2 separate regions of the Homo sapiens genome follow, and region 2 is linked to region 1. The links come from fine-mapping of genetic effects on gene expression. A gene starts in region 1. The other region holds a variant in brackets. All regions are shown on one strand. Distances are from middle to middle. Region 1 holds the start of NPFF (neuropeptide FF-amide peptide precursor). Region 2 has its middle 14 kb from the start of KRT1.

Evidence for each region. PIP is the estimated chance that this variant, and not a neighbour inherited with it, causes the effect.
Region 2: its variant is the best candidate, but not a certain one, in a credible set for the expression of NPFF in sigmoid colon (GTEx, PIP 0.62).

The regions. Positions count from the first base shown.
Region 1 is chr12:53,506,184-53,508,972 of GRCh38, reverse strand. NPFF (neuropeptide FF-amide peptide precursor) reads left to right here and starts at 1,489. Exons shown (of 3, transcript NM_003717.4): 1 at 1,489-1,600; 2 at 1,831-1,952; 3 at 2,080-2,285. The coding sequence starts at 1,499. The coding sequence ends at 2,197. ATF7-NPFF (ATF7-NPFF readthrough) reads left to right here. Exons shown (of 15, transcript NR_159377.1): 13 at 946-1,139; 14 at 1,831-1,952; 15 at 2,080-2,285. It overlaps TARBP2 (TARBP2 subunit of RISC loading complex), which reads right to left. Exons shown (of 9, transcript NM_134323.2): 9 at 2,542-2,789. It also overlaps a transcript of ATF7 not described here. RefSeq lists an enhancer at 74-368.
Region 2 is chr12:52,665,181-52,667,969 of GRCh38, reverse strand. No RefSeq gene overlaps it. Among named protein-coding and RNA genes, the nearest start is that of KRT1, 14 kb to the left of the region's middle. The variant C/T (reference allele first, on the strand shown) is at 1,232.

The sequences.
Region 1 (2,789 bases):
AAGACAGGATTCTAGGCTACTCTATATGAGAGCCAGGGCCAGGCAGAGGCTGTGGAGACCAGAGTCGGGGTCAGAATGATAGTCCAGCCCCACAGTAGCCTGCTCCTGTCCTTCTGGGACTCCCTGGAGACTGGACCCTAGCACCTCCACTCAGCCTCACCCTCCTCACTTCCTCTGCAGAGGTCTATTCTAGGAAAAGGAAATGGCCGGAGCTGGCAATGAGGAGCTGTGACCACAGGGTGGCAGCAGTGCTTCAGCTGTGGAGAGTGACTATAGGAAGGGCGATGAGGCAGGTCGGAAGCAGTGCTCTCTAGTGAGGATGGGGGTCTGTCTGCAAAGATTGGAAGCCACACTCATTCAGTGGGCTCCAAAATCCTGTAGCCTCCCTCTATATCTTAATAATTTTTTTTTTTTGAGACAGAGTTTCTCTTTTTGCCAAGGCTGGAGTGTAGTGGTGCCATCTCAGCTCACTGCAACCTCTGCCTCCCCGATTCAAGCGATTCTCCTGCCTCAGCCTCCTGAGTAGCTGGGATTACAGGTGCCTACCACCACGCCCAGCTAATTTTCGTATTTTTAGTAGACAGGGTTTCACCATGTTGGCCAGGCTGGTCTCGAACTCCTGCCCTCAGGTGATCCACCCGCCTTGGTCTCCCAAAGTGCTGGGGTTACAGGTGTGAGGCACTGCACCCGGCCAAAAAAAAAATGGTTTTTAATTAAAAAAAAAAAAGATACAGGCTGGGCATGGTGGTTGACGCCTGTAGTCCCAGCTACTTGGGAGGCTGAGGCAGGAGAATCACTTGAACCCAGGAGCCAGAGGTTGCAGTGAGCCGAGATCGCGCCACTGCACTCCAGCCTGGGCAAAAAGAGCGAAACTCCATCTCAAAAAGAAAAAAAGTTAAATTCTCTCCATCATCATGAAGTTGAATATATTTTTTCTATCCACAGGCAAATCTGAGTAGCCTCCAAGAGGCACACAAGCAGAGGATGGGCTGTGTTGCCCTGACTGCCAGCCCCAGGCACAGAGGACCAGGCCTGGTCATCCTCACAGACTCTGACCCTGGCTCTTCCCACTCCTCTTCCACTCCAGGACATCCTACTTAACCCCTCCTGACATGAGTTTCTTGTGCTTTAGTCTACAGGTTAGGAAAGAGGGGAAGTGATAAACAAGCTCTCCAACCTGTTGAGGGATTAGGGGTTCGTCTAAGGCTCCCCAGGGCCTGGCTCTGACAAAGCGTCTGCAACTAATGATGCTTCTTGAGCTCTGGAGACAGGATTTATGCATCTAATAAAGTCTGTAACTCCAGGCTTAGGGGCCGGGGGCAGGAGGCTGAGAGCATGAAGTCCTGGGGGCGCCATGGGAGGAGATCCCAGGTGGCTCCTAATGAGCCCTGCATTTCCATTTGCCTGCTCTAGATTCCCCTAAGGCTACTGTGAGGCTGGGGGTGGGGGAACAGCAGGTATAAGAGGTTGGGGTGGCTGTAGGAGGGTAGGTGGCAGCATGGATTCTAGGCAGGCTGCTGCACTGCTGGTGCTGCTGCTGTTAATAGACGGGGGCTGTGCTGAAGGGCCAGGAGGCCAGCAGGAAGACCAGCTCTCCGCGGTGAGTGTGTGTCCCATCCCCATATCACCATTGCCTCTACTTCGGTTGAGACTTGTGCTCTAGGTTCTGATACTTTCTCTGGCTGCCAAGGTTGTCATTAGGTCCTCACATCTGAGGAAATGGTTCCGCAGCCTCCTACCACTTGCCCCTGGAAGCCAGTCCCTTCCCCTTGTGACTTACGTGTCCAGGGTATTTGCCCATCTTCCTTCCCTGATACCCCCTTGGCACAGGAGGAAGACAGCGAACCCCTCCCACCACAGGATGCCCAGACCTCTGGGTCACTGTTGCACTACCTGCTCCAGGCAATGGAGAGACCTGGCCGGAGCCAAGCCTTCCTGTTTCAGCCCCAGAGGTGAGTCTGAAAGGGACACAAGCATGGCAGGGGCTGGGGGTGGAAAGGGCAGGAGGCAGAGGAAGAGGAGAAGGAAGGGGGCTAGAGAAGGGAGACTGCGGGGACCTGAGGACAAATCTTTCCTAAGGTTTGGCAGAAATACCCAGGGATCCTGGAGGAATGAATGGCTGAGTCCCCGGGCTGGAGAGGGGCTGAATTCCCAGTTCTGGAGCCTGGCTGCCCCTCAACGCTTTGGGAAGAAGTGACATGTCATCCCTTGATATGTCTGCATGCAAGGTCCACACCCAAAAGTGTCAATGTTTGCCCCCCAAATAAAATTGTCTGGCTTCTGAATCCATGTGTGTCTGTGTGAGACTTTACAGGGCTGGGTGGAAGCCCAAGGGCAAGAACCACTGCCCTTCCCCTCCACCAAACCCAGCCCTCCAGCAAGGCAGCCGACAACATTCCACGAGGCCACTGTGCCCAGCCTCCTCCCACCAGAAAGGAAAACAGGAGAATGGCTGGAACAGGAGCTCAGGGAAGGCACACAAAAGTAATGTGGTGACCTCCTCTGCTATCCACACTGCTCAAGGAAACAGAAGAGAAGGGCTTAAAAATCCACAAAGCAGCATATTTATTCCAGGCTCTAGTAGACAGCCCCCTGATTTCATTCCCATTCATCATCACCAATAAAATGAGGACGGATCCTGGGCTGGCTGAGGCTCTGTGGTCCTTGGCTCCTTGCCCTGTGCCTTCTCAGCTTCAAGGCAGGCAGTCTGTGTCAGAGGTAGAGATGGCACCCACAGAGGGTACCAGAGCTGCGCAGATACATGAGCCCAGAGGCAGAAAGAGCAGGGA
Region 2 (2,789 bases), 840 kb after region 1:
CGAGATGTCTGGGCGGTGCCAGCAAATTTATTTGTTTGTTGAAAGGTTGGATCCTCAGAATGCCCTGGGATGCTCTGTGTCACCGTGTTTGCCACTCCCATATCTGCTGGAGGGAACCTGACACTCCCTGCCAATCCATTATCAGAAATATGGCGCAGTCTTAGTCAACTTGCGACCTTCCCAAGTTCATGCGGGTTTATCCCCACCCCTCCCAGGGGCCCACGCCCGATTTCCAATCTGTCAATAGGCCCTGCGTATTCTCTCTAGGCAGTATGGAGTGTCCTCTGCTGGTACAAAGGCTTCTCTACATGCAATGATGGTACCTGTGATGGTCACCACAACGCAGCGGCTCCCAGGGAGGGTGAGGATGAAGATTACATCCTTTGGATATTTCAGAAAGCTTACTGGGAAAAATAGAAACAAAAAGACTTCTCTTGATTCTGTTCACAAGTTGCAAAGACATAAGGAAGCAGCTAAATCCTTCCTGATACAGAGAATCTTTGATCGTGGGAGAAAGCTCTTTTCTCTGGGTGTTGAGCTCAGTCCTGAGCATCTTGGAAGTTAAAGTGACCCATTGAAAAGCTAATGTGAGCACAGAGGCAAAAACTAGAGCAGAGAAAGGACTGGAAAAAAGATCAAGGAAGACGGCTGAGGGTGGGGTGTGATGATTTCTTTCTTTCTTTCCTTCCTTCCTTCCTTCTTTCTTTCCTTCCTTCCTTCCTTCTTTCTTTCCTTCCTTCCTTCCTCCCCCCTTCCCTTCCCTTCCCTTCCCTTCCCTTCCCTTCCCTCCCCTCCCCTCCCCTTCCCTCTCCTCCCCTTCCCTCCTTTTTCTTTCTTTCTTTCTTTCTTTCTTTCTTTCTTTCTTTCTTTCTTTCTTTCTTTCTTTCTTCCTTTCCTCTTTTTTTTTTTTTTTGAGACAGGGTGCTGTTCTGTTGCTCAGGCTGGAGTGTGGTGGCACAATCTCAGCTCACTGCAGCCTCAACCTCCCTGGGTGCAGGCGATCCTCCCACCTCAGCATTCCAAGTAGCTGAGACTACAGGCACACGCCACCACACCTAGCCAATTTTTGTTCTTTTTTAGAGATGGGGTTTTCCATGTTTTTTAGAGATGGGCTTATCATGAACTTCTGAGCTCAAGTGATCTACCAGCCTTGGCCTCCCAAAGTGCTAGGATTACAGGCGTGAACTACTGTACCTGGCCAATGGTCACTTTCAATGAAGATAAACCACAC[C/T]ATAGTTTGTAGGGAAGAGAGTCAGCCTCTTCTTGCTTGGAAGTTACAGGAGTCACTCTAAAGAAGAACTTTCACCCCGGCCCAGTTGCCCCACAGTGCAGGAGCTGTCTTGTGAGAGGAGTTAAGCTGACTTGGAGAAACAAGTAGAAGGGTCTTTCCCAAGGCAAGGGCACTTGAGCAGAGAGTCCAGCCCTGGTTCGGAAATTGGACCACTTCCAACCTGGAGATCCCAAGGCTGCCTTCTTTCCCCATTCTCCTTACAAGTCCTCCAGATTCTTCTTTCTCTTTTTTTTTTCCTTCCCAAGATTCCCAGACTCAACTCCCAGAATATTTTGAGCAGTTATTTTAAAAAGCATAAAGGTTTGGTTCTGGTTTGAGCTGATCTTATAGGTGTTTTGGTGAACATTTATGTTTGTTCAGTTAAAAAATATTGGAGTTCAGTTCTTGAGCAGGGGTTGTTTATGGTGGATTTGGTTCAATCCTGGTCAATTTCCTGTTGTGTACACCCTGTGGGGGTGTTGACAGGCGGGGGTCTGTCATGAAGGAGAGGCCAGCCTGAGGCTGCACATGCAGCCCACCTGCCTCAGCCTCCCGAGTAGCTGGGACTACAGGCATGTGCCATCATGCCCGGTTGCCATGCAGTTCCTTATAGCTTTAGAAATTTTCCAGCTTTGAAGGAGCTATGTCTTCAGCCACCTCATAAGGATGTTTAAAGGGGAGGGGTGGGAAATAGTCCAAATGAAATTACTAGGATGTATTTTTTATCCTTACTGAAAAATTGCACAAACAGCATAGTAACCATATGAAAGAAAATTAAAATGAACAGAAAATTCACCTCAACTAAGAACTATTAAGTTTCCCTTTCCATTCTAGACCCTCTTCCTACGTAAAGATGAATGAATGCAGCTGTAACCAGAAAGTAAGTATAATTATTAGCATGTATTTTAATATTGATCATTAACATTTTCTTCAAGGTCCAGCTAAATGCCAGAACTTCTGTGACTCCTTCTCTCTCCCGTGGGGAAAAAAACATTCTTTTGTGTTCCCATCCCATTTTGCCTGCCTGTGTCCTGGCATTAATAACATAATATAGGTAGCTGCAAGTATGTCTGTTCCAATGATTTGTGTTGTCCTAAATGGGTGAGTGGGTGGGGGGCATGCCTTATTTATTTCTGATTATTTCCGACAAAATGGGTTAAGAATCCCGCAACAAAACAACACATGGGGTCCTTCATTTTGGGCCCCTTGGGTGAGGAATGTTGTCCTAGAAAAGCACATTCAAAGGTCTGAAATGTGCATTTATTGGCTCTACTGGGTGTCTTTTCACCTGCCTAGACCATATTTCCTTCGGTAAAGGGGTTATAATGGAGCTGTCTCTGGCAGGCTGAGTTCAACTGGCCATCAGGAGTAGCTATGTCTGACCAATCCTGGGCCAGGGAGGGCCCTTGGTGACCATACCTACCTAGCGAGACAAGTAACTAGCAAGGTGAGCGGATAGGGACTGGGAGGATTTAGGGCCCAATCTCTTAGGAAAGACCTCAGGGGGTAGCAGTTCTCC